Homo sapiens: one gene and its partners. The protein of the gene in region 3 purifies or fractionates together with the protein of the main gene of each other region. This does not show direct contact. Each region holds a gene or a part of one and is shown on either strand. Other genes may lie near its edges.

Region 1 (4,524 bases), on a different chromosome or scaffold from region 3:
GAGGTGACCCTCAACCCATAACTGTAAAATAGGTTGGGTTAGATGAGCTAAAATGCTAGGAAGAAGAATGAACAACCTCCACAATGTAGGACCTCTTTATTTAGAAGAGAGTACACTCTAGGTTTTATTAGAGACAATGCCAAGTAAATGAAAAACAGCAGCAAACTGGGAATGTTTCTAAATTTTAAAAAAAGTCAAATGAGCAAAGGAGGGTAACAGAAAAAAAGCAGAAAAAGTTCTATTGATATGGCTATAAGATCTTTGTAACTATAACATGCCCCCAAGCTAAAATGGCTGTAGATTTATGTGTTTGGAGACCTCATCCCTCCTACTTCAGATTTATTACTATGGGGGCTGGAGAGAAATCTTGAAATAGGTGAATTCTAGATTATAAAAATCTCCAAGAACACATCCTTGCAAAACAACAACAAAAAACACAAATAAACAAATAAAAAAATCAATGCAACTGCCTTCTACTTTATTCAGAATGTTTGCATCTTTACTTATGAATATTTTAGACTAGTGGTCCCAGTGGTTTTTCCTAAGCCACACATGTGCAAGCATGTGCTCCTAAACAAACCCAGAGTCCTACTATAAATATCACTTTATTCATTCTGTGTAGGCAATTAAATAAAACATTCCTTTTAAAACCTTATTTTAAAAACTAAATACATATACTGGTGTTTCTGCTAAAGCCCACAGTATCTCTTTATTGCCTCAGTGGTAATAACCAGCTGCTCACTGTCTTTCACATAAAAACCATCAGGAACCTGAAGAGTGTTCTAATTCTCATTCTACTCCAACCTGAGTTCTCTCACCTTTCTCATAAGTCTAACAACTATTTTATTAGTGTGGTGACTCCCTTCTAAGTATCTCCCAGTATTTCACATCCCTCTTGAGTCTCAGAGCCTGAAAATAATGGATGTTGAGAGGAAATGGAATAATTACAGTCAGGTGTCAGAGTTGGTTACTTCTTCCTCCAGAAAAACTGGACCTATGAAGATGCCAAGAACTCCTATGTCTGCCCAAGCCAGGGAGGTAGGTGGTCAGAACCTCCTCATCTGTCCCCTTATCTGGATTTCCAATTAGAATGGACATTGTTACAAGCTAGTTTCAACAATATTCACAACAATATTCACAAGCCAATTGTTTTTAAAGTCTTTCTATTGTATACCCAGAAAGGATATTGTTTTTCAGCTTACAAGAATCAAGGCAAAATGAAGGGTGTAAATAAACTCAATGACTTTCCACTTATGATTGGCTATTCAGGGGAAAAAAGAAAGAAAGCAAAAGGGCAAGGTTGGTATAATATTTGAAAATAAATAATAATGGCAAGAATATTTGCTTCAAGTTGAATAGTAATAGAAAGATGAGTAGATGCTGTATTTAAAATAGTATAATGTTAGTATTGAGTATCCACAGTAAGACCTCAAATATCCCTCTTAATAGTGCACATTTAAAACACAGATTGCGCTGGGCGTGGTGGCTCACTCCCGTAATGCCAGCACTTTGGGAGGCTGAGGCAGGCGATCACCTGAGGTCAGGTGTTTGAGACCAGCCTGGCCAACACGGCGAAACCCCATCTCTACTAAAAATACAAAAATTAGCCGGGCATGGTGGCGGGCGCCTGTAATCCCAGCTACTCGGGAGGCTGAGGCAAAAGAATTGCTTGAACCCGGGAGGCGGAGGTTGCAGTAAGCTGAGATCATGCCACTGCACTCCAGCCGGGGCAACCAGAACAAGACTCCGTCTCAAAAAATAAAAAAAATTAAAAAAGAAAAAACAAAACAAAACACAGATTGCATTGGAATATTTTAGTGCAATGCAATGGGGAAATAAAGAACACTATCTCAATGGGCAAAGAGTCTTCATCTCTACATTTAGAAAAGCTGGAGGAAGTTTTCCAAGATCTTGTTTGACCTCTCTTTTCTTCAGAATGCATTTTGGAAAATGAATTTTAAAAGCAACTTACTGTTCTGCAGCCCTCATCAAATACCCTTGTATCTCCTCTGCTGAATTTGGGGAAGGAAGAAGACACTCACCACACTAAAAAAAGCCAGACCATTGGGAAGTATGTCAATATCTTCAGAGCCAGCTTCTGTAAGTTTAAGGAACAGATAAATGTCATGTTCAAGTTCTGTTATTTGTTACACAGAGCATAACTGGGACTCTGTTTACTTTATCAGAGTGACTGTATCTTTAGGGATGGTTCTGATGTTTTTTCCAAGGAACCATTCTTTTTAATAAATGTCAGTTTAAACCCCTTCCTGAAGTGAACTTCTGACTTTAAATGTTAGATATTTTATGTTTACTCAAATCAAAGTCAAGTTATCACCACATTTCCAGCTATAATACTGAAAAAGTTGACATCTGTACACTCTCATGATAAACATCCAGATGTCCGTATAAAAGTAATTGACATCAGGGGAATATTACTTTCTGAAGGAAGGGCTCATAGGCATTTAACCATGCAAATATCCTTGTCCTCTTCTTTGCTCATTCAATCTGAAGCAAACAGACATCTTTCTCATTAACAGAGGTAAAACACCTGGGATTATATATTCCTTCTTTTAAAAACAGTGCCTACTTGTGCTCATAAGCAAAGAAAGCTTTTCTATTTAATCTTTAAATTTAGGCTTTAAATTAGAGAAAAAAACTAGCAGAAGAAAATTAATGAAAAATACCATGCACCTAAGCCAGTTGAAGTTTCTAACTCCTGTCTCTGAGGCAGGCTACAATTACTATTGATTGTTTATTGACTGTCTGCAGTACACTCCACACAGCACAGCAAATAATTAGACATAAGACTTTCCCCAGCAGTCTCACTGTATAAATTCTACAGACAGATAATAGACCCAAACACAAGAAAAGAAGAATAAAAATGGCTTAGATTAAGCCAAACCATGACACATTCTTTGAGTCTACAAAATCCAATCTTCCTCTTTAAGACTTCTCCATAGGATTTCTTCAAGGTTATTTCTAGGTTGTCAAAACCAAACAGCATCTATCTATCCAGCCATTTTGGTCTTGCTTCATGAGTTTGCATTTAGCCAGTTGCCTCCAGTGTTGCTTGCTCCATCGTAGTGCAGAAAAACAAAACAAAATAAAAATGCCAAGAACTTCACATTGTAAAGATGACCCATCTGCCTGCTCCTCAGAAAGAAGATACACAGAAATAAGCTTAAGCATGGCATAGCGGAGGAGTTCTCAATCTGGGGTCTGTGGATCACTTTTGGGCTTCAAAGTATCTGTGAACCCTCGGAAATTCTATGCAATGCAAAATGTCTCATGTATGCACAGATGAGAACGTTTCTGTAAAAACGGTCCTTGATTTTCATCAGATTCAAAAAAGAGACTGTGATTCCCCCAAAAAGGTTAAGAATGACTAGACTCTAGTTCCACGGTGGTTGTCCACTGGTAATAAGTTAAGAATCAGGGGAACGCTACACCACATACACATGTATACACAGCACATACACATGTACACACAGACACACACACACACACACACACACACACACACACACCGAGAGAGAATTCTAGTCCAGGTTTTGCTTTTCAGTCCTATTTAGTAGAAGCTCAATTAATTAAAATTTGTTTTTCCTGAAAATTATTTTAGAAAATTTAATTTCCAAGTATACACGTGGAAAAAGAAGATATATAGAAAAAATTAACAATGCTTCTTTGATAGGATTATGAATGATTTTTATTTTTTTCTTTATACTTTGTTTAAAATTTTCTACAAAATTGTATATTTTTTAATAATTAAGGAAAGAGAAATCTTTTTTTAAAAAAATACATTTATTTCAACCATATTGTAACTTCTGTTTAACTCCATTGCCTAATTCCAATGGAAAAAATGTATCTATCTGTAGCCTTCTTTGGAATATTTTCCAGATCTTCTCCCCGTCATCATTTCTATAGCCACTACTGCAGGAAGGTTTTATCATCGTGTATCCCCTCTTCGGTGTGATTATGTCAGGAGCAGTCAATGCTAGAGAAATTTTTGCTCCTCTAATTTAATAATAATAACTAACATACATTAGGTACACCAAGTACCAGGCTCCTTGTAAATACCCTGCATACAATATCTCATATGATTATCTTTTATTTTAGAGTGAAGACTATTGGAGGCTTTGGAAAAGTTAAGCAATTGCTCAAGGTCACAAACTGGGAAGCTGGGACTCAAAGCCTTTGCTCTGACTTAAAGGCAAACAGAAAATATTCAAGTTAGAATTTAATGAATTTCCTCTCTCAGAAACATCCCCTGATTCCTCTGTAAAGCCACTTCACTTGTAAATTCAATTGTGGTCAATTCCATATGTTGTCTTTTTCCCCTGAAGTTTTGCTTCCAAGCCTCTCACCAACATCTTTACCAATGAATATCCTGCACTTTTCTTTAAAACCTCTTTCAAAACCTTTTCTGTCTTTTTCGTATTTCAACTTATTTTATTTCAAAACAAATTTATTAAATCTTTACTTTTTTTATTCTAGTGATATACATTAATTTCAATATTGCATTCC
Region 2 (4,360 bases), on a different chromosome or scaffold from region 3:
AATACCTAGGAATCCAATTTACAAGGGATGTGAAGGACCTCTTCAAGGAGAACTACAAACCACTGCTCAACACAATAAAAGAGGAAACAAACACATGGAAGAACATTCCATGTTCATGGATAGGAAGAATCAATATCATGAAAATGGCCATACTGCCCAAGGTAATTTATAGATTCAATGCCATCCCCATCAAGCTACCAATGACTTTCTTCACAGAATTGGAAAAAACTACTCTAAAGTTCATATGGAACCAAAAAGAGCCCGCATTGCCAAGTCAATCCTAAGCCAAAAGAACAAAGCTGGAGGCATCACGCTACCTGACTTCAAGCTATACTACAAGGCTACAGTAACCAAAACAGCATGGTACTGGTACCAAAACAGAGATACAGACCAATGGAACAGAACAGAGCCCTCAGAAATAATACCACACATCTACAACCATCTGCTCTTTGACAAACCTGACAAAAACAAGAAATGGGGAAGGGATTCCCTATTTAACAAATGGTGCTGGGAAAACTGGCTAGCCATATGTAGAAAGCTGAAACTGGATCCCTTCCTTACACCTTATACAAAAATTAATTCAAGATGGATTAAAGACTTAAATGTTAGATGTAAAACCATAAAAACCCTAGAAGAAAACCTAGGCAATAACATTCAGGACATAGGCATGGGCAAGGACTTCATGTCTAAAACACCAAAAGCAATGGCAACAAAAGCCAAAATTGACAAATGGGATCTAATGAAACTAAAGAGCTTCTGCACAGCAAAAGAAACTACCATCAGAGTGAACAGGCAACCTACAGAATGGGAGAAAATTTTTGCAATCTACTTATCTGACAAAGGGCTAATATCCAGAATTTACAAAGAACTCAAACAAATTTACAAGAAAAAAACAACCCCATCAAAAAGTGGGCAAAGGATATGAACAGACACTTCTCATGTGCAGCCAACAGACACATGGAAAAATGCTGATCATCACTGGCCATCAGAGAAATGCAAATCAAAACCACAATGAGATACCATCACACACCAGTTAGAATGGTGATCATTAAAAAGTCAGGAAACAACAGGTGCTGGAGAGGATGTGGAGAAATAGCAACACTTTTACACTGTTGGTGGGACTGTAAACTAGTTCAACCATTGTGGAAGGCAGTGTGGCGATTCCTCAAGGATCTACAACTAGAAATAACATTTGACCCAGTCATCCCATTACTGGGTATATACCCAAAGGATTATAAATCATGCTGCTATAAAGACACATGCACACGTATGTTTATTGCGTGTGCAATATTCATACTATTCACTATTCACATACTCTATTCACAATAGCAAAGACTTGGAACCAACCCAAATGTCCATCAATGATAGACTGGATTAAGAAAATGTGGCACATATACACCATGGAATACTATCCAGCCATAAAAAAAGATGAGTTCATGTCCTTTGTAGGGACATGGATGAAGCTGGAAACCATCATTCTCAGCAAACTATCGCAAGGACAAAAAGCCAAACACTGCATATTCCCACTCATAGGTGGGAATTGAACAATGAGAACACTTGGACACAGGAAGGGGAACATCACACACCGAGGCTTGTCGTGGGGTGGGGGAAGGGGGGAGGGACAGCATTAGGAGATATACCTAATGTAAATGACAAGTTAATAGGTGCAGCACACCAACATGGCACATGTATCCAAATGTAACAAACCTGCACGTTGTGCACATGTACCCTAGAACTTAAAGTATAATTTAAAAAAAAAAAAAAAGAAAATAGTTGAATTCAGTAGGTCCTTACTTAATGCCATTTATAGGATCTTGGAAACTGAGATTTTAAGTGAAATGATGTATAACAAAACTACATTTTTCTCACAGCATTATAATGAAATGTTGAATGAAACATTTTTTTGAGGACTTGGTATATAGTTTTGCTTAAAGCTGCTGTTTCCAAGAACTTATTGATGACATTAAGGACTTGCTATATTCTGCTCCCTTACTTCCATATCTTCTCTGTAAGTGACTCTCACAACTATTCTTCCAGTCTCAAATATCTGCTGAATATCTGCCTACCATGTGCTAGGTTCTGTTCTAGATACTGATAACATATCAGTGAACAAAACAGACCCATATCTTACTCTATCACCTTTAGTGAATGTACTTATCTATAATTGGTATATGATGTAAATATATCATCATCAATTTATGTAGTAGTTTAACTTTTAAAAAATTCTGTTGTATGTCTTTTAAATCCTTGACACTGTTGTTTAAAGTCTCAGGAGGCAGAATTCTTAATGAGGTAAAATTATCTCATGGTACCACCTATTTTTTTTTTTTTGAGATGGAGTGTTGCTCTTTCACCAGGCTGGAGTGCAGTGTGTGACCTTGGCTCACTGCAATCTCCGCTGCCTGGGTTCAAGTGATTCTCCTAACTCAGCCTCCCAAGTAGTTGGGACTACAGGCATGTGCCACCACACCCAGCTAATTTGTTGTATTTTTAGTAGAGATGGGGTTTCACCATGTTGGCTAGGATGGACTCGATCTCCTGACCTCGTGATCCACCCACCTCAGCCTTCCAAAGTGTTGGGATTACAGGCGTGAGCCACCACACCCGGCTGGTACCACATTTAATTAAACAAATGATAAGCAGTACTTTTTAACACTGTGATAAAACATACCTTGGTAAGAGTGATCAGCAATCCTCTGATGGATGTGACGATGATTATTCCAACAAGAATGAAGGAAATGTGTTGGGACCAAAACTTCACCTGCCACCATAACAAGAAAAAATATCTGCTAAATCTCTGTTCAGAGAGACGTAAGGGCTAAGCTATATCCCAATCATTTACATGACTGTGAGAGGGAGCTTTATTAGACCCTACCTGATTTTTTTTCTTAAGGGAGAGAGGAAAGCAAGTAAGTGGCAAATAAAACAACTACAGAAAGACTGCAGTAAATACCTTAATTAGCAGACTTAATTAAACCTTAAAATTAAAAAAATATTTTTTTTGTAGAGCCAGGGTCTTGCTATGTAGTTCAGGCTCGTCTCAAACTCCTGGGCTCAAGCAATACTCCCACATCAGCCTCCCAAAGTGTTGGTACTACAGGCATGAGTCACCATGCCCGGCAGCAAGTACCAAGCAGTGATAAAAATAACGCTAATAAATCAGAAAAAAACAGAACTAATGATACAGTTTTACTGTGATAAATGAAAAGCAGGAATTAAAAGGAAACTAAATAATACCTTGATTATTTTCTATCTATGAATAATAGTTCCCTAATCACCAAAACTTCAAGGAATCTTTCTTTTTATAGTAAAAGAATATATAGACATTCTCAGCTAAATTCTAGGAAATAGTTGAACTTCACTGGAACCACATGATACCTTTTTCTCCTCCTGTATTGCTTCATAGTGAGAAGGAGTTTTGGGACCCTGTGTTTGATTCAGTTCTGAAAAGTATCTGAAAGGGAGCTGCTATTACTAACATCTAAATGATTTGTTATTCAGAATTACAAAATATAGCATAAACAGATGAATTACAGATGAAATATATACATGGCCATGTAAGTATCCTCAGAAAGTACAGAAAAGCAAAAGCATTGCTAAAAATTCAGCCCAGTAAAACACTTAAGGAAACACAAATGCAACAACAGCAAAGCATACTTTTTGTTGTTTTTTGAGACAGGGGTCTCACTCTGTCGCCCAGAGTGGAGTGCAGTGGCACTATCTCAGCTCACTGCAACTTCTTTCTCCCCGGCTCAAGTGATCCTCCTGCTTTAGCCTCCTGCATAGCTGGGACTACAGGTGCATGCCACCATGTCCAGCTAATTTTTATATTTTTTCTAGAGACAGGTTTTCACCATGTTGCCCAGGCTGGTCTTGAACTCCTGGACTCAAGTGATCTGTCTCGGCCTCTCAAAGTGCTGGGACTACAGATGTGGGCCACAGTACTGCGTGGCCTGTAAAGCATACTTAATATAATTTATATACCACTTGAAGAAAAGATATCATGTTCCTTCACACTCAAAGAGGATACACTATTGATCTAGCATCAAGAAACATGTACATTGAGCTGTTTCTCAAGGATTGGGGCTCAATTTGCTCTTGTTCATTTTCATTTCATCCAAGTCCTTTTGAGATTAGGGGCACGTCTGGCTGGGATGGATGGCTGGGGGTAGCACGCAGTCTGCGTCTAGGTTGACAGCACAGCTAAATGGCCTACACTGGGACTAAGAATATGACATTGGTCTTACTATTAAAGTGCTATTCAGCCAGAGTCATTGGCTCTGGTTTATGAATAAAGACACTGAACTTCAATTAGGACAAGGGTGTATTTATGACAGTGGTATTATGAAACAGTAAAAAG
Region 3 (4,524 bases):
TGCACTCCAGCCTAGGTGACAAGAGCAAAACTCTGTCTCAAAAGGAAAAATGCTATGATTTTGGTGCCAAGCAACTATCTGTCCACTGGGATTTCTATCGTGAGGTTTGGTGGTGAGACTGGCCCAAGGATAACTAGGTTTAGGCCATCTGAAAAGCATAATCAACACTAGTTATATTTCCTCGTCTCCCTATAAACATCACAGAGGGCAAAGTTGATTTTCACTGAAGCAGCCATTAAATGCTATCTCGCTTACAATATGATCAAGATCATGATTTTCCATTTCAAAGTTGATAGGGTATTAATCATAAAATAAATGTACTGAAAAGGAGAAAAGCACTAAATAATTTTTCCTTACCTGTGACATATTTAAAATTTTCAGAGTGAAATTTTCTAATCCTGTAATGTTTCTCTCCTCACAGTTCACCTTTGGGGATTTCAGACTTTCAGTGTTATTGGAGTCCTCTGTCGGGGCTGCGTCAGATTCCGCCACTTCTGGCTCTGTGTAATACTCCTCTTCTCTGTCAGGGAAGTGTGCTCCAGCGCCATCCAGAGAGAAAAGGCTCTCTCGGACGTTGCACCTTGAGTCCTCCGCTCCTCCAGCACCACAGGTGACGCCGCTAGGCTCTGAACTCACTTTGTCCTCAGCTTCCCCAGGAATCACAGACAGCATCACCATGTGATCGCCTTGGGTGTCCAGCCCCAGCACCGCATTGGCCTCTTCTGCTGCCCTGTCCTGGCCCATCGGGTCATGCAGGAGCTCCTCCTCACCCAGGTACACAGCCCCCACCTGGAGAGGGTGAGCAGGCTGCTCCTCTGACCATAAGCGACCACTTTCCTCTGCAACTAAAACATGCCAGCACATTCAGAGTCATATTTGACTTCAAAACAAATGAACCCCAAAGAATTACAGTTCCCCTCTAACACGAAATTTTCCCCTCTGGAGACAAAAAGGTCTCCTTTCATTAAACTATCAGAGAGCTACTCACCATTTCCCAGGTTAGGAAGAAGGTCACAAGCAGGTACTATTAATAAATTAATGAATGTCAAAGAAGGCCGGGCATGGTGGTTCACACCTGTAATTCTAGCACCTTGGGAGGCCCCAAGTCAGGTGGATCACTTGAGGTCAGGAGTTCAAGACTAGCCTGGCCAACATGGTGAAACCCTGTCTCTATTAAAAATATAAAAATTAGCCGGGCATGGTGGCAGGCACCTGTAATCCCAGCTACTAGGGAGGCTGAGGCAAGAGGATTGCTGGAACCTAGGAGGCGGAGGTTGCAGTGAGCCAAGACTGCGCCACTGCACTCCAGTCTGGGCGACAGAGCAAGACTCCGTCTCAAAAAACAAACAAACAAACAAGCAAACAAAATAATGAATGTCAAATAATAGACAAACACACAGCTCTGCCCTAAACTTGCTGCTTGCCATGTGGATTATAACCAAAAACATTCCAGTTCAGATATCTCATTAGGAAAATAGAATATAAACACTTTCATTTTTTGATAAGAGTTTCATTTGTTTGATAATATCCAAGAAAAGGATCATGGTTTTATGCAAGATTCTACTAGAACAAAGCATCTTTGCACACATTATAACAGTCCTGTGAGATGGGCAAGACAAGGGTTACCAAGACCACTGAACAGGTAACGAGGCAAGGCACAGAGAGGCTCAGCACAGTGTCCGATGGTACACAGATAGTAAGCAGCAAAGCCAAGTCTGCGAGCAAAGTTTTCTGGCTGCTACTCCAGAACGAGCCGTAGGCTCCCTGCCATGATACCTCGGGGATGCTGAGCCACACTGCCTGAAGAACACTGTTCAAGCCACACAGCAGCTCCTTCCTGAGGTGGCCTCTGACAGCTGGACTCTGCTCTCCTGCCTGCCACCCTTGGGCTGCTGCCCTTGGGAGTGCTGGGAGATGGGCTCGGCAGTGCAGAGGCAGCAGCAGGAGGAAGAAGAGAACTTTCCCCCACTTTGGAGCTAGAAGGTGGGTCTTGAGCATAATGCTCAGATAAGGGAAGAGTCCCAGGTAGTCTCGTACATCTATTTACCCAACTCCACTCACCTCCATAGCAATGCCTCCTGCCCTCCAACTCATCAACTCAACACCAGCTGCCAGACTTTGTGCCAGGCACCAACCAGCAGAAACCAGTGAGGCCAGCAGCCCTCACGAAAGCTCACCATGTGGTTAAGAAACCACCCGCTGGGTGATGAGTTCTGCGTGCCAACAGCATGTCACTGGAGTGTCAGTGACCAACTGACTTCAAAGTTGGGAAGGTCTGGGGGCTTCCTCAGGTATGCACATTTGTATAAGATTTCAAAGAATATCCCTGTAGAGCTTTTTGTTGTTGCTGATGCATAACAGATGTACATGTGATAATCACAAAGCACATGTGATAATCAATATATTCATGCAATTTGTAAAGATCAGATCAATGTATTTGGGATATCCATCACCTTAAATATTTGTCTTTTCTTCATGCTAGAATCATTCAAATTCTTCTCTTCTAGCTATTTTAAAATATACAATAGGCTATTATGAACTACAGTTACCCTACTGATCTACCTCACACTAGGGCATAGAGCTCTGTGGATTCATTCAGAGATTCAAAAACATTATCTGGGAATTCTGCTTCTGGCCAAGATGGAGTAACAAGAACCAGATTTACCTTACCTACTGAAACAACCAAATAGATAATATATATAAAACAACAGTTTCAGGAAATCAGTTATGAGGCAACAGAGGATAGTGACATCCGAGAAACAGGCGACAAATGAAGAGAACCCTACAACTGCTCCAACTTACTGCCTTGATGGCGTTCCCACTGTGGCTCAGGGAGGGGAAATCCAGGCAGAGCCCAGCAGACTCTCCCAGTTGAGGAGATGGAGCTAAGAGTCCAAGGAGACCAAGAAGCCATAGTTTGCAAGACAGAATACTGCAGATGAGAGGAGCTATCTAGAGAGGGGACTCCAGAGATCTGCAGAGGCCCCCCCAAGTATACAGCAGGGTACGGGTCATCACATGCATGTGAGTAAACTACCCAGTGCCAGAGAAAGAACTACCAGAAAGGATGGGAAGGAACAGTACCCAACATTCACACAGAGCAGGGAATGGTACCTCTTCTTACCAGCTAGACTGAAAAACTTCATAATTCACAGGGTATTGAGTAGAGTATACAAAAGGACCTGCGTCAGTAGTGGGACACTATTAACCCTAAAGAAAATAACAGCTTGCTTGCTTAAAAGCAAAACCTGAAAGAATCAAGCTGTTCTCAAGTAACTTCACTGTACCCCAGAACAAAGCTCAAGAATATATATACGGGGCCAGGTGCAGTGGCTCACGCCTGTAATCCCAGCAATTTGGAAGGCCGAGGTGGGTGGATCACCTGAGGTCAGAAGTTTGAGACCAGCCTGACCAACATGGTGAAACCCTGTCTCTATTAAAATATAAAAATTAGCCATGCATGGTGGCGGGCACCTGTAATTTTAGCTACTCGGTAGGCTGAGGCAGGAGAATCACTTGAACCCAGGAGGTGGAGGTTGCAATGAGCCGAGATCATGCCACTGCACTCCAGCCTGGGCAACAAGAGAGAAATCCGTCTCAGAAAAAAAAAAAAAAAGAATATGTATAGGGAATCTAAAATATCCAGCATTCAACAAAGTAAAATTCATGTCTGGCATCCAGTAAAAAATTATCAGACATATAAGGAAGCAGGAAAATAGGACACATAATGAGAATAATCAATCAAGCCACACTGACCCAGAACTTGCACCCATGTCACAATTAGCAGACAAGGATATTAAAACAATAATTGTAACTGTATTGCATTCAAAAAGTAAAGTAGATATCAAGATATAAGATATTAAAAATATCAAATCGACCTGGGAGGCAGAGGTTGCAGTGAGCCAAGATCAAGCCATTGCACTCCAGCCTGGGCGAAAGAGTGAGACCCTGTCTCAAAAAAATAACTAAATAAAAATAAAAACAATCAAATTGGCCGGGCTCGGTGGCTCACACCTGTAATCTCAGCACTTTGGGAGGCTGAGGCGGGTAGATCACCTGAGGTCGGGAGTTCGAGACCAGCCTGACCAACATGGAGAAACCCCATCTCTACTAAAAATACAAAATTAGCCTGGCGTGGTGGCGCATGCTTGTAATCCCAGCTTTTTGGGAGGCTGAGGCAGGAGAATCGCTTGAACTTAGGAGGCAGAGGTTGTGGTGAGCCGAGATAGTGCCATTGCACTCCAGCCTGGGCAACAAGAGCAAAACTCTGTCTCGGGAAAAAAAAAAAGATCAAATTGTACCCTTTTTTTTTTTTTTTTTGAAACTGAGTCTTGCTCTATCGTCCAGGTTGGAGTGCAGTGGCACAATCTCAGCTCACTGCAGCCTCCACCTCCCGGGTTCAAGCAATTCTCCTGCCTCAGCCTCCCAAGTAGCTGGGATTATAGGTGCCTGCCACCACACCTGACTAATTTTTGTATTTTTTAGTAGAGATGAGGTTTCGCCATGTTGGCCAGGCTGGTCTCG
Region 4 (4,042 bases), on a different chromosome or scaffold from region 3:
TGGTTTCTTGCACACTGTACACTGACAGCCAAGCCCTTCCCTCAGTCCACTTCTTAAGCATCTACTGCAGACTCAGTTCAAGCATGTCCTTCTTTGTGCTTCCACAGCACTCTGCACTGCCCTGGTACAAATCACACTGTTTTGTAGTCATATTTACCTGCTTGTCTCCTCCACAAGATTGTGAGTTCCTTAAGGGTGGGGATTATGTTTTATTCACATTTGTATCCCCAGCACCCACCACAGGACCTAACGTTTTATAGGAGCTTCACCTATGTTTGTTGAATAAATGGATGAATGAATAGTTCTCGTTCTGAGCAGAGCTCTGACCTCTATTTTCCTACTACTTCTGCAGCAAACAGTATCCATATATTAATATATGTGGTCCCTTACCAAACCCCCTGACTATCCACCCCTCCTCCCAGCAGTGCCAAACACCGCAGCCAAAATTTCTGATGCTCAGGCAGTTACAGGAGTGTGGGACTGGTCCAACTAGAAGAGGTGGAACAGAAGCCAATAGTTTCAGTGTAGGCCCTAACCAATGTCAGTGTTGCTATCAGAGTCCACCCCAAATCCCAGAGACAAGTGTTGCTGTCTACTTATCCAGAACCTAACCTTAAGTGTAATGAGGGGAAAACATATCTCAAGACCATTCCTTTAAGTGTGACTGGACTGGATGGCTACCTACTTACACCACCCTCCTCAAACCCTGATTCAACAAGAAGCACCCACAGGCACAGCAGATGCTTTTGTGGTAACTGAAGAAAACACAAAGGACACTTCTCTGAGGCTCTTCACTCTTAAAAGTCAGGCTCTACATCTTTAGCAAGCAAAAAACAGGACACAGTTTATTTTTCTACTTTCTTTTAATATCATTTTTTAAAGTTGGTAAGCAGCTAGACATCATTTAGAAGCAGACGGGTTAAAATAGACAAGAAATAGCAAAGACACATCCTTCACATCGTACAGAACTGTATTAGTATCCACCACCACCATCACAGGGGAGGGCTAGCTGTCACTGGGGTCAGGAGTACTCTCCATTATTGTGCAGGGGACCAGACAGCATTTAGGTGTGACGATGTCAAACTGAGTGGACATAGAGAGTGCCGGGATCAAGGTCTACAGTTTTGGCTCTAGACTTGCGTGAGGGTTGGTTACTCTTAATCTCTTCCAGGCTGTGCTGGATCCCATAGCCGAAGTAGATAGCAAAGCCTAGTGGGGAAAGGTAGCTGTGAGGTGGGGGTGTAAAGGCTTCATAGGTTTCCTACTTGAGACCAAGAGGGAAAGGAGCTGGGCTAGGACACCAAAGAAGCCTACTCTTCCCAAGTGGATACCTACCAATCAGCATCCAGACCCCAAATCGGGCCCAGGTACCAGCTGTCATCTGCATCATAAGGTAAATATTCACAAAGATGCTCATTAGTGGGAGGAGAGGCAAAGCAGGCACCTGAAAACAAAGTAAAATCTTCTTTGTACATACCACAGGTTGACCTAGAAAGAGATCCCTATCCTATGCAGGCCAGAAAAGGGTGAGTCCAACTCTTACTTGTCCTCTGCATTTCAGTAGCTGCTCATTTAGCATACCTCATGAGACTCCAAGAATATGCAGTTTGGGTAAATGGAACTGGAAAGGAACTAAAGAGGGTCAGAGAAGAAGTCTTTGGCCTAGGTACCTCCTATATCTTCCCTTTCATGTTCAATTAAAGAATATCTATGAACTTTATTAGACCTCAAGATATCTGGAGCCTATTCTCCCAAGATGGGCTGGCAAGGAAAAAAGACAGAGTTCATTTACCTTAAAGTGAAGGGGAGTGGAACTCTGTGGCTGTCTCCAGATGACCACAATGATCCCAATAATGAGCAGCAGGAGCAGCACAACCACTGCAGTCCACAGCAGGTCTCCAGAAAGCAATGGAACTGACCACTGGGCCAGCACCAGGCAAAGAGCAGTCAGCAGGACAGCTTCAAAGGTCAAGTTGAGAGACATCAAAACCAACTCTTAAGACCAACATGCTAAGACATTAGAAACCCTGTTCCAAGGAGAGTCGCTCTCTCTCTAGTTCTTCCTCAGCCACCAAATGCCACACACTTCGACCCAATCACGCTGATCTCAGAGCCACCCCAGAAAAATTCCACTGCTCACCAAGCAATGAGGAACAAACATAGACAATTTGGCCAGAGAGTGGAGTGGGGATGGAGTTGAGTGGGAAAAATAGTCCCCATAGGGTCAACTTCTCTGATTCAGTAGTTATTGCCTCCTCCTGCAACTCCACTTCTTCCCCAGTCTTTGTCTCCTGATCAGGTTGATACCTGAGGCAAAAGTAAGATGGCAGTATTAAGAACAACCTTTACTCACTTTATCATCTTCTCCCAGGCAGCTTAACCTTCCTCATCACCATTAAGGGAAGTTCTTTTTGGCAGGGTGAGATACCCAGATTCCTCAAAGAAAGTTGGAATAATGAAGGCGAAGGAGGAAAGAGGAGCAGATCTCCATCATTCCTCATCCAAGAATAAAAATCCAAATCACAGTATGCAGAGGAAGAGTCTCACCTGAGGATGAGAACACAAATCGACACCAGGGAGTAAGCAAGCAGGGTCCCAATTGACATGAGGTCCACAAGATCAGTGAGTTTGAAGAGGAATGCCATGAATGCTAAAATTAATAGGCAGGAAACAAGAAATGAGAGAAGGGAGTGGCAAAGTTAAAGAAGTTGGCGAAACAACTAAGGGAAGGGGAAAGAGGGTCTGTTACCTGCAATAATGCCAGAGACCACGGTGGCTATGATTGGGGTGCGTGTGCCGGTGTGGATCCGAGCAAGTACACGGAACAGGAGGCCATCCTCTGCCATCGCGTAGATCACCCGAGGCATGGGGAACATGGAGCCCAGGAGGCTGGAGAGGAGAATGCCCAGGGTGGCATGAGTTGACTGGGATCTCTCTTCCCAAGACTGTATGTTTAAAGAGTCTCCACTTTCCCCTCACAGCCCTTTTAAGGGGTATTCTCTGGTACTGAATGCTATAACCTGAGACTCTGACAGCAGAAGAAAACAAACATTTGATACTGACCTGGTAGAAAGAGCACAGAGGGAGCCAACAGCCACAACATAGCGGGCAGGAGCCCATCCAATGTAGAGAAATGCCTCAGGCAAAGGGCTCTCAGGCTGAAGCTGGTAGTAAGGCATCATCAGGGTGAGTGCAGAAGAGACAGCAAAATACGCCAAAAAGCAGACAGACAGTGAGATCACAATGCCCATCGGGATGGAACGCTGGGGATTCTGGGCTTCTTCTCCTGAAGGAAGGGCGTAAGGTTCTAAATTAGGGAAGCAGGCCCACTCCTCTACCACCCCCAGTCTGCATACAGCCTGGGCACACACTGTGCCCAAGCCCCAAACAGAATGGAATGACTGTGTTACCAGTGGTAGCAATACAGTCGAAACCAACAAATGCATAGAAACAGGTCGCTGCTCCACGGAGAATTCCCTCGAAGCCGAAAGGCACAAATCCTCCAGAGCCCAGAGGACCCAAGCTAGAGTGGAAGAAGGGTTGGAGAAGGTAAGGGTGTGTTCAGCCAACTCTGTATCTTTTCTCTAATGCCAAACCAGTTAGCTAGGTCTTCAAAGCCCAGCCTCCCATTTTTTCCCATCCCCATCCAGAATCCTTCAGCAGATCCCCTTCTTCCCCTTCATTTTCCCAGCTCTGCAGCTCCTAAGAGTGACCATCTAACCTATAGGTGTCATTGAGTTCAGCCATGGCCAATTCGTAGTCCTCTTCTGTGAGCTTCCAGTTGTGCACGTCCCCCTTAACGAAGCCAGAGATCATGACGAACCCAAGAACCAAAAGGTTCACGCCTGTGAACACTTTGGTAACCAGGGCCGACTCACTAGCCCCGAGAGCCAACAATCCTGTGGGAGAAATGCATTCAGGACTCCCAGAAAGTCTTCAGTCCAAGCTTTGTTTCCCTGCCTCTAGGTTCCTTCCCAGCTTTTCTTCTTCCCCACCATTATCACCTCCCTTAAGCCTTTCTCAGGCCCATCCCCCATCCTTA
Region 5 (4,290 bases), on a different chromosome or scaffold from region 3:
AAAAATTAACTGGGCATGGTGGTGCACGCCTGTAATCCCAGCTACTTGGGAGGCAGAAGCAGGTAAATCACTTGAACCCGGATACGGAGGTTGCAGTGAGCAGAGATCGTGCCGCTGCACTCCAGCCTGGCCGACAGAGTGAGACTCCATCTCAAAAAAGAAAAAGAAAAAAAATTAGCCAGGCATGGTGGCATTCCCCTGTAATCCCAGCTACTTGGGAAGCTGGGTCAGCAGAATCACTTGAACCCAGGAAGCAGAGGTTGCAGTGAGCCAAGATCACGCCACTGCACTCCTGCCTGGGTGAGGGAGTGAGACTCTGTCTCAAAACAACAACAACAACAAAAAAAACTTAATACTGCTGCAGTCTTCAGATATTATCTTTCTACAAATCCTCATAATGTGAGGTTTTTTTTGTTTTATTTTATTTTGTTTTTGAGATGGAGTGTCTCTGTCACCCAGACTGGAGTGCAATGGCAGGATCTCGGCTCACTGCAACCTCCACAGTGATTTAGGCGACTCTCCTGCCTTAAGCCTCCTGAGTAGCTGGGATTACAGGCGAGTGCCACCACGCCTGACAAATTTTTGTAGTTTTAGTAGAGACAGGGTTTCACCATGTTGGCCAGGCTGGTCTCAAACTCCTGACTTCAAGTGATCTGCCCACCTTAGTCTCCCAAAGTGCTGGGATTACAGGCGTGAGCCACCCTGCCCAGCGAATTTTTATTGTTTGTTTTTGTTTTTTTCTTCTTTTAGGAGAGGGTCTCTCTCTGTAGCTCAGGCTGGAGGGTAGTGGTGTGATCATGGCTTACTGGAGCCTCGATCTCCTGGACTCAAGCAGTCTTCCTGCCTCAGCTTCCCTAGTAACTGGGACTACAGTAGTGAGCCACTGCACACAACTTCAATGTGGAATTTTTAAATTTTTGAATCTTAAATAATTAAGTAATGACAACCTGTGGGGAAAAGCAAGAGAGATCAGATTGTTACTGTGTCTGTGTAGAAAGAAGTAGACATAGGAGACTCCATTTTGTTCTGTACTAAGAAAAATTCTTCTGCCTTGAGATTCTGTTAATCTATAACCTTACCCCCAACCCCGTGCTCTCTGAAACATGTGCTGTGTCACAGAGTTGAATGGATTAAGGGCGGTGCAAGATGTGCTTTGTTAAACAGATGCTTGAAGGCAGCATGCTCCTTAAGAGTCATCACCACTCCCTAATCTCAAGTACCCAGGGACACAAAAACTGCGGAAGGCCGCAGGGACCTCTGCCTAGGAAAGCCAGGTATTGTCCAAGGTTTCTCCCCATGTGATAGTCTGAAATACGGCCTCGTGGGAAGGGAAAGACCTGAACGTCCCCCAGCCCGACACCCGTAAAGGGTCTGTGCTGAGGAGGATTAGTATAAGAGGAAGGCATGCCTCTTGCAGTTGAGACAAGAGGAAGGCATCTGTCTCCTGCCTGTCCCTGGGCAATGGAATGTCTCGGTATAAAACGCGATTGTATGCTCCATCTACTGAGATAGGGAAAAACCGCCTTAGGGCTGGAGGTGGGACCTGCGGGCAGCAATACTGCTTTGTAAAGCATTGAGATGTTTATGTGTATGCATATCTAAGAGCACAGCACTTAATCCTTTACATTGTCTATGACGCAAAGACCTTTGTTCACGTGTTTGTCTGCTGACCCTCTCCCCACAATTGTCTTGTGACCCTGACACATCCCCCTCTTCGAGAAACACCCACAAATGATCAATAAATACTAAGGGAACTCAGAGGCTGGCGGGATCCTCCATATGCTGAACGCTGGTTCCCCGGGTCCCCTTATTTCTGTCTCTATACTTTGTCTCTGTGTCTTTTTCTTTCCTAAGTCTCTCGTTCCACCTTACGAGAAACACCCACAGGTGTGGAGGGGCAACCCACCCCTACACAACCCAGAGAAGTAATTAAGGAAGGGTGGAGCTTGAAGGCCCAGGAAATTCCTAAGAGACAATATGAACTTTTTGATCCCAAAGTCACATCAATAATAGGGCTTGTCAAGTACTGTGTCACAGTTTACTAGAATCACTGGAACCAGTTTTGGCTGTAGACAGTTTGCACAATTTTCCAGTAGTCATTAAAAAGCTGATCTCCAATATTTGTTTTCCTTTAAGCAAACAGCAAAATCCAAGTCTACACTGGGTCACTCACGGTTTTTATAAAAGAAAGGAGTGCCCAGCATGTCTCACTAAAACCCCAGGGTCTCTGTAAGGGATCCTCCTCTTTTCCCTGTTATCCAGCCCTGAAGAATGGGTGCCTGATTCAGACCTTCCACCTCCCCAGCCTCTGCCGGAGTGCCAAAGGTCCCACTCCCCATAACCTAGCTGTCATTAGTCAAGTGATTACTAGAAAGAGGTTACAGCAGGTCAGGGCAGACATCTAACAGAACATTGAAGCAGCCAGAGTCCAGGAATGTCATAGAGGCCGCTTGCATCCCACTTGCCCACAGTCCTGCCCCCGCCACTCAGAGCGCGGCTGGCTCTTCGTGGCATGGACCCACCTCCGGCCAGAAAGGAGCGCAGCCAGTAGAAGTCTCTGCGGGTTGTGGGCCCTCCGGCCCCTGCCGCCTGCGGCATTGCGGGAGGGGGATCGGCCGCCGCCAGGGCTGCCGCGGCCGTCGCCGCCGCCATCAGGACCAGGGTCGCGTCAGGAGCCTAGGTTGCCAACTTACAGAACACCGGACGGGACCATAGCCGGAACAGGCGGTGACAGGAGGCTGACCGCCCCGCCGGCGGGGCAAAGTAACACCCGGCGGCGCGGCGCCGGCTGATGGCGTACAGCAAGGGCGGGGCCTGTGTCACGCGCCAAGGGGCTCTGCCGGGAGGGGCGGGGCCAGGACGCGGAACAGGGCGTCACCCAGGCTCGTAAACTCCTCCATCCCGCCTCACCCGGCGTTGCCACTGTCAGTTCACTGCTCAGGCCCCTTCTGTTCGGACGGAAAAAGGAAACGGTAGGCAGTGAGATGGTCCCATTAAAACCCACAACCTGGCCGGGCGCGGTGGCTCACGCCTGTAATCCCAGCACTTTGGGAGGCCCAGGCGGACGGATCACTTGAGGTCAGGAGTTCAAGACTAGCCTGGATGCCGGGCGCCGTGGCTCACGCCTATAATCCCAGCCCTTTGGGAGGCTGAGGCGGGCGGATCACAAAGTCAGGAGTTCGAGACCAGCCTGGCCAATATGGTGAAACCCCGTCTCTACTAAAAATACAGAAATTAGCCGGGCGGGGTGGCGGGCACCTGTAGTCCCAGCTACTCGAGAGGCTGAAGTAGGAGAATCACTTGAATCCAGGAGGCAGAGGTTGCAGTGAGCTGAGATAGCGCCACTGCACTCTAGCCTGGGTGACAGAGTGAGACTCCGTCTAAAAAAAAAAAAGACTAGCCAGGCGAACATGGTGAAACCCCGTCTCTACTAAAAATACAAAAAATTAGCCAGGCGTGAGGGCGGGCGCCTGTAATCCCAGCTACTGGGGAGGCTGAGGCAGGAGAATTGGTTGAACCCAGGAGGCGGAGATTGCAGTGAGCCTAGATCGCACCATTGCACTCCAGCCTGGGCGACACAGCGAGACTACGCCTCAAAAAAATAAAAAATAAAAAGGCCCACAACCTTAGAAAGCTCTCTCCTGTCTCGTCCCTTGACCTATATTGACCACTGACCAGTAATCGCCTATCGCGCTTTTTTTTTTTTTTTTTTTGAGACGGAGTCTCGTTCTGTTGCCCAGGCTGGAGTGCAGTGGCGAGATCTCTGCTCACTGCAACCTCCACCCCCTGGGTTCAAGCAATTCTCCTGCCTCAGCCTCCCTAGTAGGTGGGATTATAGGCGTGCAATACTACCCCTGGTTACTTTTTGTATTTTTAGTAGAGACGGGGTTTCCAACGTATTGGTCAAGGCTGGTCCGAACTGCTGACCTCATCGGATCCGCCCTCCTCGGCCTCCCAAAGTGCTGGAATTGCAGGCGTGAGCCTCTGCGCCCTGCTCTCGGAGCTGTATTCTGACCTCCCTAAGATGCAGCCTTTCTTTTTTTTTTTTTTTTTTTTTTTTGAGACGGAGTCTCGCTGTGTCGCCCAGGCTGGAGTGCACTGGCCTGATCTCGGCTCACTGCAAGCTCTGCCTCCCGGGTTCACGCCATTCTCCTGCCTCAGCCTCCTGAGTGGCTGGGACTACAGGCGCCCACCACCACGCCCGGCTAATTTTTTGTATTTTTAGTAGAGACGGGGTTTCACCGTGTTAGCCAGGATGGTCTCCATCTCCTGACCTCGCGATCCGCCTGC
Region 6 (4,524 bases), on a different chromosome or scaffold from region 3:
CTAGATGAATACCTTGAAAGTAGGGGGTCTCATTTCAACCAATATAACCACATTGCCAGGCAGAGCATCTTCAGAAAATAAGTGCCTGAAACTCCTGGCTAGGCTACTACAGATGTGAACCATGGGTGTTCCCTTTTCCTTGTCTGTAAAAGAGGAAGAATGGTGCCTACTTTGTAAAGATGGAATTATTTACATAATAGAACAATACTTGCACACAGCAGCACTCACTAACTGCGACTGAGTGTGTTACTAACCCACCCTCTTCTTTTTCCTCCACATTCAATCACAAAGCCCTATCAGCTACCACTAAAATAGATTTGGAATTCTTTTCAATCTTAACATCCACTCTTTCCACTCCCCTAACCATCATTTCTCACCTGGATGACTACATTACCTTCCAAGCTGGCCCTTTTACAGAGCTCCACACAAATGTCACTTGCTCAGTAAGATTTTCCAAACCCCTACCTCTCACCCACCAGGCTAAACAACCTGGCATGGCACAGTAAATTTTCATTTTCTTGTTATTGTTTGTCTTCCCACACTAGAATGTGACCTCCATAATGGCAGGTACATTGTCTATCAAACATTGTACCCCTTGGTACCCAGGACAGCACCTGGAACAATGTACACACGGGAATATTGCAGGAATTAAGGGATCTGGGTTCTAGAGATCCCTTACTGAAAAGTCATTACTTACTATTGAATGGTCCAACCACTAACATCAACCTCTAGTTAAGAAACCATAATAAAATGAGAAAATAGTAAAGGAAAAGTTAACTTCTGATTCCACTTGAGAAGCATCAGCTCCACAAAATCAGACAAATATACAAAAGAGGGAAAGTAAACTAGGTATATACGGAGTGCTGTTTTCCCGTGCCTTCCATCGTAATGGCACAGAGGTATCCCCATAGGTATGCAGGTATATTTCGTGCTACTGTACTAAAAAACTGATCTGTAAGAAGTTCATTTAACTAAAGAACCTTCCCACAATTCAAACACTTACTCAAAAGCTCTTGGAAGAAATCTAAAGTTACACACCAAACTGGGATGTACCTAGGAAAGGTGTACGCAGTGTAGGAGTAGGGGAAACTTTAACTTTCTCAAAGTATTGTGGCAGTGTTTGAATGTATAATTGCATCTGTGATTTTAAAATAGAAAAATCAGGCATTAAAAAACTATACACAAATGCAACCTGAAATAACTGGTTTGTTCACAGAGGTTTATATTTATAAAGTGTAAAAATAGAGTTCTAGTTACATTTTTTTAGTATTTTCCTATAAGTCTAGTAAGTTAAGCAGTTCCCTAACCAGAATTTAATTGTGTTAGACTGGAATTGTATTTGATTGGGAAATGTTTAATTTCCTATAGTAAAAGTTTTTATTATCCTGCTTAAATAAGCAAATGCAGAAACACACCCACACCTACACAGTCCTGTCACTCTCAGCTAAAGTGAAGGAAGCAATTTAAGATCTATTTAAGGTCTTCACATGAATGGCAAATAAGCAGAGAAGAGTAAAATTAAGGATACAAGGTATGATTCATATTCTTGTTAGGACTATAGGTATCAGAGACGACGCTGGGCAACATTTTGGCAGAAGTGCAGAAAGAATGTAGAAGTGTCATAAAAGGGAGTAGACTAGATGACTTATAAGCTCCCTTCTCCAATTCTAAGTAAACATGTTTCATTCTAATGAATGGCTGCTTTTACAGCAAGATTCAGAATATAAATTTAACTCATTAGGAGTTTAGGATTAGTTTGATGAATCAGTGCTACACAAAGAAAGATCCAGTTATAAATGTTCTCTAGATAAAAAGCCTTGACTGTTTCTGAGAAACTTGGAACAATGTTTCAGTTAAGAGTATGAATCAGCTAAGCATGGTGGATCAAGGACGGATCACTTGAGCCCAGGAGCTCAAAACCAGACTGGGCAATATGGCAAAATCTCGTCTCTACCCCCACTAAAAAATACCAAAAAAAAAATTAGCTGGGCATGGTGCTGTGTACCTGTAGTCCCAGCTACTCAGGAGGCTGAGGTGGGAGGACCGCTTGAGCCCGGGGGCAGAGGTTGCAGTGAGTGGAGACTGCACCACTGCACCTCTGGTTTGGGCAACAGTGTGAGATTCTGTCTTACAAAAAAAAGTATGAATCCTTGGAGAAGTTAAGGGCATATTAGAGAAATGTCAAAATCTTAAATTCTTTATCTTCTTTCTTGTGTTTTTCACACTATTTTACACTTAAAGCAGGTCAACTGAAAACCTGTTTATTTTATATAAACTTAAGAACTGTGCATTTTATTGTTATATTACATTAGCATTTGGAGAAGGGGGAATTAGCAGTCAGAGCCACTAATGTAAAATATATTCTGAAGTAAATTCCAAGTGTTACCAACTGATTTAAGCAAGATAAATCGGTAATTAGAATATTTATTAGGGGCTAGGCATGGTGGCTCACACCTGTAATCCCAGCACTTTGGGAGGCCAAGGCAGAAGGATCACCTGAGGCCAGGAATTCAAGACCAGCCTGGGCAACACAGAAAGACCCCATTTCTACAAAAACTTTTAAAAATTAGCTAGAAATAATGGCACGGCAGCTACTCCGGAGGATCACTTGAACCCAGGCATTCAAGGCTGCAATGAGCAATGATGGTGCCACCGCACCAGAGCCTGGGTGACAGAAGAAGACCCTGACTCAAAAAAACCCAAACCCCAATCTATTACGTGTTGATTAATTTTTTGGCCTACAAATTTCAATGATCAGTTTTCAGTGTATTGCATAGGAATGGGGGAAAAGAAATTTTTTAAAAAAGAAGCAAAGAAAAAAGAATTCTGACATTTGAAGACATCCTATTAACATTTATCAGCTTCACAGAACATGCTAAAAAGATTTGTCATTATTTATCATAACGATTACAGTTATTGTTTATGCAGCTATCTCAACATTTAGGATATATCTAGATTCCTAGGATAGAATTCTAGGCTATAAACTAACATAAATCTAGTTTCACGTTAACTCACGATGATAGAATTTAAGGTAACTTCATTCCTTTTTCATGAGTCCTACCCAATCCTCTGTCAGTACTCCAACTTTCCTTTTAATTTCCCATAAGTTTTCCTTAAACTCCAGCTCAAGGATATATATACGGCCTCTTACTCTGAGTCTCTAAGCATTCCACATTCAAGTTACTTCCTATCCTATAGATAGGGCTTTTAAGTGGCAAACAAACCAAACACCAGTATATTCACCACATCATACATAATTAATTGTCTTAGAAGTTATATCACCTTTAATTTATCAGGATTTCAGTTATTTCCATATATATATATATATAATCACAAGATGGTAATTTCAGAATCAGATAAGAATTAAAAGAATACCGAAATATGAATAAGTTGGTTATTATACAGAATGCAGATTTGTTCCGAAAATAAAACAGTTAATCAAATGTTCTACTTAAGGGATATGTGAAGGTAAATCTGTAAATAAGAAACTAAAAGATTATGGGAAAGTAAGTAAACTTATTACAGAAAACCAGGTTCTCTGTTAAAGAAAGCAGAGACCAAAATGCTTTAATACGTAAATACCTAAAGAAATAAGGCAAGTTAAACTACGAAATAACTACAAAATACTGAATAGGCAGAACTATGGAGTTCATTGTTGTGGGGGAATGAAGGGCAGCCCCTCAAAAAATGTGTCCACATCCTAAGCCCTGGAACCTGTGAATGTTTTCTTATTTGGAAAAAGGCTCTTTGCAGTTATAATTAAGGATCTTGAGATGAAGAGATCATCCCGGAATATCCAGGTGGGCTCTAAACCCAATGACAAGCATCCTTCTAAGAGAAAGGGAGAGTGAGATGTGAGACAGAAGAGGTGGCAGCAAGGACTGTAAGGCAGAGGTTAAAGTGATGGGGCCCCAAGCCAAGGAATGCCACCAGTCACCAGAAGTTGAAACCCACAAGAACGGATTCCCCCTAGGGCCTCCAGAGGGAGTAAAATTGAGCCTACACCTTGATTTCAAAGTGCTGGCCTCCAGAATCACGAGAACTTAAGTTCTATTATTTTAAGCCGCTTAGTTTGAGGTGATCTGTTTTGGCAGCACAGGAAAGTAACACAGGTACTTGAATCAATGCCTCTCAACACAGTAGAGAGACTTAACTGGATTTTCAATAGTCTCAAATTACGTGAAATATAAAAAAGCTTATAAAATTCTTATTACTTATTCTAAAGAAATAAATGGTGAAGAAAGTACCCATTTGAGTTTCAGTACCAATGAGAGATTCTGGAAGGACCTAAAAGGATAAACGAGTTATAAGGAACAATTTTAGCAGCACTGACTGAAATATTTCTCTATCTCAGAGATACATATGAAAATAAAGTAGTGAAATTGGGGAAGAAAAAGGTATTTACCCAGAATCCAAGAAAAATCCAACTAAATTTGTTGGAAGCAGGTTTACCTGCCAAGCACAGATCATAAATCTCATGGACCTACTACTACTTCTCTTCAGCTTAAAAATTCTATGTAAAAG
Region 7 (4,524 bases), on a different chromosome or scaffold from region 3:
GATGATGCCGCATTTGGCTGCGATGGCCCGGGCCGTGTTGATGTTGTCCCCAGTCACCATGCGGACTGTGATGCCAGCACGCTGGCATTTTCGGATAGCTTCAGGGACCTAGAAGAGACAAGAGAGGTGGGCGGGGCCATCGAGGCAAGACGTATTTTGGGTTGAGGCAGTACCCCTTCCTCCATCAGATCTGCAGGTGGCCCAAGGTCCAGCAGAGGTGAGAGTAAAGCCATCCGATTCACGTGCTCAGAACACTTGTGTTAGCCTACAGTTGGGCAAAAGCATTGAACACAAAGCCTATTGTGGAATACAGTGCTGATTATCTCATGTAACTCATTGAATCCTGCACTGAAAGGGAAAAGCATGGGACTCGAAGTAAAGTTTCTGCTGAATGTGCATCACCTTTGCACCAAGTTACAAAATTGTTAAAAGTTGGGGACCACCTGCATCACATTAGATTCTGGAGAAAGAGAAAGAGGTTCCCCAGTGCTGAGTGGAAAGCGAACAGCCTGCAAGGGGTTGAGAGCGGGAAGCCAGGAGACTGGCCGGGAGGTGGTGGCATTGTCCCAGTGGTGGGGGGACAGGGAAGACAGTTCCCAAATGAAGAGGTATGTGGCTCTTCAGGCTCGGGGACAGAGAGACAGGGTCAGGCAGCTGATGCCACTGAGGTAGACGGGCAGGGGGAGAGGAGAAGAGGAGCCAGGTTCAGAGTTTGGGAACCTGAATGAGGAGGTCAAGCCTAGGCAGTGGGGCTTGTGAGCACCGTCGGGTAAGTGTAGAAGCCTAGGTGTGGCCGAGCCGCCAGGCCTGGGGAGCCTGCGGCGGTGGGGAGTAGACACGCAGGAGTGGGAGCCAGGGGTAGGGCAGCCGGGAGACACCAGGGGAGGACATTGACCTGGGAGTCCCTGAATCCTGGCGCCCCCTGAGGCCATGGGCAGGGGGGCTGTGATCTTTGCCAGGGAGACAGCTGGGGGCCCCACTCTAAGCTGTGACAGGGTGATCCAATGGTTCCTGCAGCATATACCACTAAGTGGCCTCACTGCCAGCCTCGGGGACACTTCGTACTCTCTGAGGATCTTGGGGTGCTGGATAACAAGATCACGAGCCACAAGAAGACAATTCTCCTTTGAGCCAGCGAATGCCTGTCCCTGAAAAGTCTGGAAGCCACCCCTCTGCTGCCACCAAGTGGCCGTGACGAGCCTGAAAACCAGCAGCTGCGAACCCAGGCCTCCTCCCTCCTCAGGCCCAGTGTGTGTAGCCCAGTTCCTTCCCCATGGCCCCAAAGGGCCAGGCCAGGCTGTCCTTCCTCGCCTGCTCAGCCCTGCTCCCTGCCTTCTCCCCAAGGCCCCACAGCACAGCAGCCAGCCAGGTGTCTGGAGAAGTTGCCAGTGCCCCCGGCCGGCCCAGCTCCAGCATCAATACCACCCCAGCCACAGGCTTCCTATGGCTCCCCAGGGCCCAGCCTCACGGGCCCTCCTCTGGCTGCAGCCGTGCCGCATCTCCAAGCACCCTGGCGGTTTCAGTGAGGCCCTTGTGTCCTACTGCCTGTTGCCGGCACCCAGGACTTCGCTGGGCCTTCTGTGCGTCCTCCTCAGCCACCACCAGGCTGGCCAGTCTTTGTGGGGGTCTGCCCAGCCTCCGCAGCCTGGCCCTGTCACTGTGGTCTACCCCTTGGACTCTCTCTCAGCCACTCTTAAGCTGGAAAGGAGCTGTCCCTATTCCCCAGGCCCCTCTGGCAAGATTCCTTCCTCTGCTCTGTGCTTCAGTTGCTCCCTGGTCCAACAGAGGGACTCGATGGCTCCTGTCCCCAAGTGTGGCCTTGCTTCGCCTCACCAGCACCCTCTCCTTCTGCTCTCCCAGGCTCAGTGGGGCCCGGGACTCATGCCGCTGCCCGCCTTTGCGGGGCCCATTTCCCTCGCTGGACTTCTGTCCCCTGTCCTCCGCTACCACCCATTTTCTCCCAGGGCAAGCTCGAGGTGCTCCCTCTCTGGGCGCAGTGACCATGTTCTCCTCGGGGCACGGGGCTGCTCTGTTGACATGAGCCATGGCTGGCGTTTAGACGCACTGTCTTTGAATTGAGTGTTTTTGCTACATGATCCAATACATGAATGCCTGTCTCCCGAAGGAGAGCCCAGAAGCTTCTCCTCCCAGGTTGCACCTGCACCCCCAGGGTGGCTCCTACAAAGACAAGTTGTCAGGGTCACAGTGGCCCTGCTTGTGACACAGGTGGGTGCCATGCAGAGGCCCTGGGGAGACAGAGGGGCACCCCATGCCTTGCATTCTCCCTCCGGGGCCGGCCATCCTCCACACTCTCCAGGGTCTGGGATCTTTCAACAACAAAGTGACTTCCCAGTGTCAAGGCCATGGCATCTGCCACGCGGCCCTCGAGGTCCCCTCATCTGGACTCCCCTGGTGGCATCGTCCATATGGGGATATGCTTCTGGGCTCCCTTTCCCGCCAGGACCTTTGCTGTGAGCTCGCCACAGGACGTCCTGACCGTAGAGTAGCCCCAGCCAAACCCTCAACCAATAAACGCCCACCCTGTGCCCCAAACCTGTGTCCCCTCAGGCTTCAGCACCACCTCCAGTCCATCGGTCCTGGGTGGATCAGATCCCAAATGTCGACGGTCTCTCCGCCACTGCCACCTTCTCACCTGGTAGAAGGTGGAGCCTGAGCTGGGCCCATAGGTCAAGCGGGAAGGGCTTTCCAGCAGGCAGGACAGAGCCTTTGTGCGGGTGTCAGGGTGAGAGCACCCAGGACGGGGCTCAAGTGTACTACGGAGGGACCGCAGCAGCTGTGTGTGAAGGAAGGCCGCCCCTACCAGTCCGGACAAGCTCGGGCAGAGGGCACAGTTACCAGGGCAGCTCACAGAGAAGGTGGTGGCTACCTCGGGCCGCACAGGGTCCTCAATGCCCACGACAGCTATGCAGGTGAGGTCACCCACGACCTCATTCTCGTTGTCCCAGTCGGGCTCCTGGCCTGCAGAGAAGTCCCGGTAGGCGATGCAGATGGTGCGGAGGCCATCGCAAGCCATCGGCTCGATGATCTTCCTCACCATGTCGTCCCGGTCCCGAGGCCGAAAGCCCCGGAGTTCGCCATTGCTGTTCAAGATGTTGGTGCACCTAGGCAGGGGGTGGGCAGAGATGAGGTGGAGGTGGGGAGAGAACAACAAGGAACAGCGCTGGTCACACTGGATTGGGGGCTTAGTCAAGGACTGGGGTCCTTATCAGAGAGGAGTGCCCCGTGTGAGAACACAGACACACAGGGAGAAGGGCGTGTGACAACAGGCAGAGATTAGAGAGGGTCAGCTGCAAGCTGAGGAACGCGAGGACTGGCAGCCACCACCAGAAGCTGGAGGATGCAGGATGCATCCTCTCTGAGATGCTTTGGAGGCGCTTCGGCCCTGCCCACGCCCTGCTTTTGGACTTCCGGCCTCCAGAACTGGGGGAGAATCCATTTCTGTTGCTTGAGGGCACCAGGACGCTCATGCACTGCTGCAGGCTGAGAGACCGGGAGGGAGGCAGGAGCATGTGGCTCATGGCAGCTCCACCACAGACTTCATAGGGCAAGCGGGTGGAACCTGGGCAAAAACTGAAGTCTGTGGACAATCGCTATAACCACGTCCAGGCAGCCACAGCCTCAGTAGAGCGCTCATGACTCCAGGAGCTTCTCAAAAGGGACAGGACTTGGGAGGATTCAGGTGGGGAGAGGAGGGAGCAAAGGAGCCGAGGGTCACAGAGGCGGGCATGGTGGAAGAAGCCAGTGGGGCTGTGAGTGCCAGGTGCTGCCACTGCATGGGAGGCTGGTGACGAAGGAAATGATCATAACAGAAGCTGTGTGGACGGAGAGCCTCCTATGGATGTGGATTCACCCACGGAACCCTCACACCCCTCCCCAGAGATAAGTATTCTGTGATCTCCATGCCACCAGGGAAACTGAGGCATGGGAGTAAGGGGGAGTGAAGCTGGGCTGGGCCTTTTGTCCGCAGTGCCTCAGTGTCCCTCAGTGCCCACCAAAAAAGAAGCACAGAAAGAGGGCTGAGGCCCCCACACCAGCAGGGATGGCTCCAGGGAGGAGGTGGTCCTGGCCCTGGCAGTGAGCGCTGCACCTGGCAGAGTTCTGGGAGAGCGCTGTGGGTGGGGCGGCCAGGCAGGGTGCACTTGGTGGTCCAGTCCGCAGAACACAGGAAGGAGCGTGGGCCTGGGCCTTTGGGGAGCCCTGGGCGTCCTGCAGAGGACCTTGCCCTGAGGGCCCTGGGACGGCAGTCATGAGGAGCGAGGTGACTTGTGGACAGAGACGCCAAGGCCAAGGGTGTGGAGTCCGGGAAGGCTGAGTGGGAGTGGGGAAGCCAGGGCATTTGGAGGTGACGCTGTGCACTCTCCCTTACTTTGTTCTAATAGCTTTATTGGGATATAATTCACGCACCACACAGTCCACCCATTTAAAGTAGATAATTCGATGGTTTTTAGTATAGTCACAGAGCTGCACGACCATCACCAGTCTCCAATTCCAGAAAATTTTCAT

The links.
Region 1: the proteins of TXNDC15 (region 3) and PON2 purify together in Homo sapiens (affinity purification with mass spectrometry; 3 studies listed by BioGRID and IntAct, with this or other methods). This does not show direct contact.
Region 2: the proteins of TXNDC15 (region 3) and GPR89B purify together in Homo sapiens (affinity purification with mass spectrometry, with the first as the bait; 2 studies listed by BioGRID). This does not show direct contact.
Region 4: the proteins of TXNDC15 (region 3) and SLC7A3 purify together in Homo sapiens (affinity purification with mass spectrometry; 3 studies listed by BioGRID and IntAct, with this or other methods). This does not show direct contact.
Region 5: the proteins of TXNDC15 (region 3) and SLC25A16 purify together in Homo sapiens (affinity purification with mass spectrometry, with the first as the bait; one large-scale study listed by BioGRID). This does not show direct contact.
Region 6: the proteins of TXNDC15 (region 3) and AGPAT5 purify together in Homo sapiens (affinity purification with mass spectrometry, with the first as the bait; one large-scale study listed by BioGRID). This does not show direct contact.
Region 7: the proteins of TXNDC15 (region 3) and ATP2B3 purify together in Homo sapiens (affinity purification with mass spectrometry; 3 studies listed by BioGRID and IntAct, with this or other methods). This does not show direct contact.

Annotation. Positions count from the first base shown.
Region 1 is NC_000007.14:95,414,200-95,418,723, forward strand, and holds part of PON2 (serum paraoxonase/arylesterase 2), read right to left. Parts: exon of another isoform or gene 4,117-4,524; intron 2,099-4,116; coding exon 2,043-2,098; exon of another isoform or gene 1,990-2,042; coding exon of another isoform or gene 1,973-1,989; intron 1-1,972. UniProt on the Homo sapiens protein: Capable of hydrolyzing lactones and a number of aromatic carboxylic acid esters. Has antioxidant activity. Is not associated with high density lipoprotein.
Region 2 is NC_000001.11:147,986,833-147,991,192, reverse strand, and holds part of GPR89B (Golgi pH regulator B), read right to left. Parts: intron 2,762-4,360; coding exon 2,672-2,761; intron 1-2,671. UniProt on the Homo sapiens protein: Voltage-gated channel that enables the transfer of anions such as iodide, chloride, bromide and fluoride which may function in counter-ion conductance and participates in Golgi acidification.
Region 3 is NC_000005.10:134,884,016-134,888,539, reverse strand, and holds part of TXNDC15 (thioredoxin domain-containing protein 15 isoform 1 precursor), read right to left. Parts: intron 846-4,524; coding exon 358-845; intron 1-357. UniProt on the Homo sapiens protein: Acts as a positive regulator of ciliary hedgehog signaling. Involved in ciliogenesis.
Region 4 is NC_000023.11:70,924,735-70,928,776, forward strand, and holds the end of SLC7A3 (cationic amino acid transporter 3), read right to left. Parts: intron 3,900-4,042; coding exon 3,722-3,899; intron 3,524-3,721; coding exon 3,411-3,523; intron 3,287-3,410; coding exon 3,064-3,286; intron 2,890-3,063; coding exon 2,750-2,889; intron 2,651-2,749; coding exon 2,548-2,650; intron 2,308-2,547; coding exon 2,141-2,307; intron 1,960-2,140; coding exon 1,793-1,959; intron 1,445-1,792; coding exon 1,336-1,444; intron 1,210-1,335; coding exon 1,079-1,209; 3' UTR 845-1,078; downstream 1-844. UniProt on the Homo sapiens protein: Uniporter that mediates the uptake of cationic L-amino acids such as L-arginine, L-lysine and L-ornithine. The transport is sodium ions- and pH-independent, moderately trans-stimulated and is mediated by passive diffusion.
Region 5 is NC_000010.11:68,524,724-68,529,013, forward strand, and holds the start of SLC25A16 (solute carrier family 25 member 16), read right to left. Parts: upstream 2,801-4,290; 5' UTR 2,653-2,800; coding exon 2,523-2,652; intron 1-2,522. UniProt on the Homo sapiens protein: May be involved in the transport of coenzyme A in the mitochondrial matrix. Very little is known about the physiological function of this carrier.
Region 6 is NC_000008.11:6,711,178-6,715,701, reverse strand, and holds part of AGPAT5 (1-acyl-sn-glycerol-3-phosphate acyltransferase epsilon), read right to left. Parts: intron 1-4,524. UniProt on the Homo sapiens protein: Converts 1-acyl-sn-glycerol-3-phosphate (lysophosphatidic acid or LPA) into 1,2-diacyl-sn-glycerol-3-phosphate (phosphatidic acid or PA) by incorporating an acyl moiety at the sn-2 position of the glycerol backbone.
Region 7 is NC_000023.11:153,551,633-153,556,156, reverse strand, and holds part of ATP2B3 (plasma membrane calcium-transporting ATPase 3), read right to left. Parts: intron 3,123-4,524; coding exon 2,888-3,122; intron 109-2,887; coding exon 1-108. UniProt on the Homo sapiens protein: ATP-driven Ca(2+) ion pump involved in the maintenance of basal intracellular Ca(2+) levels at the presynaptic terminals. Uses ATP as an energy source to transport cytosolic Ca(2+) ions across the plasma membrane to the extracellular compartment.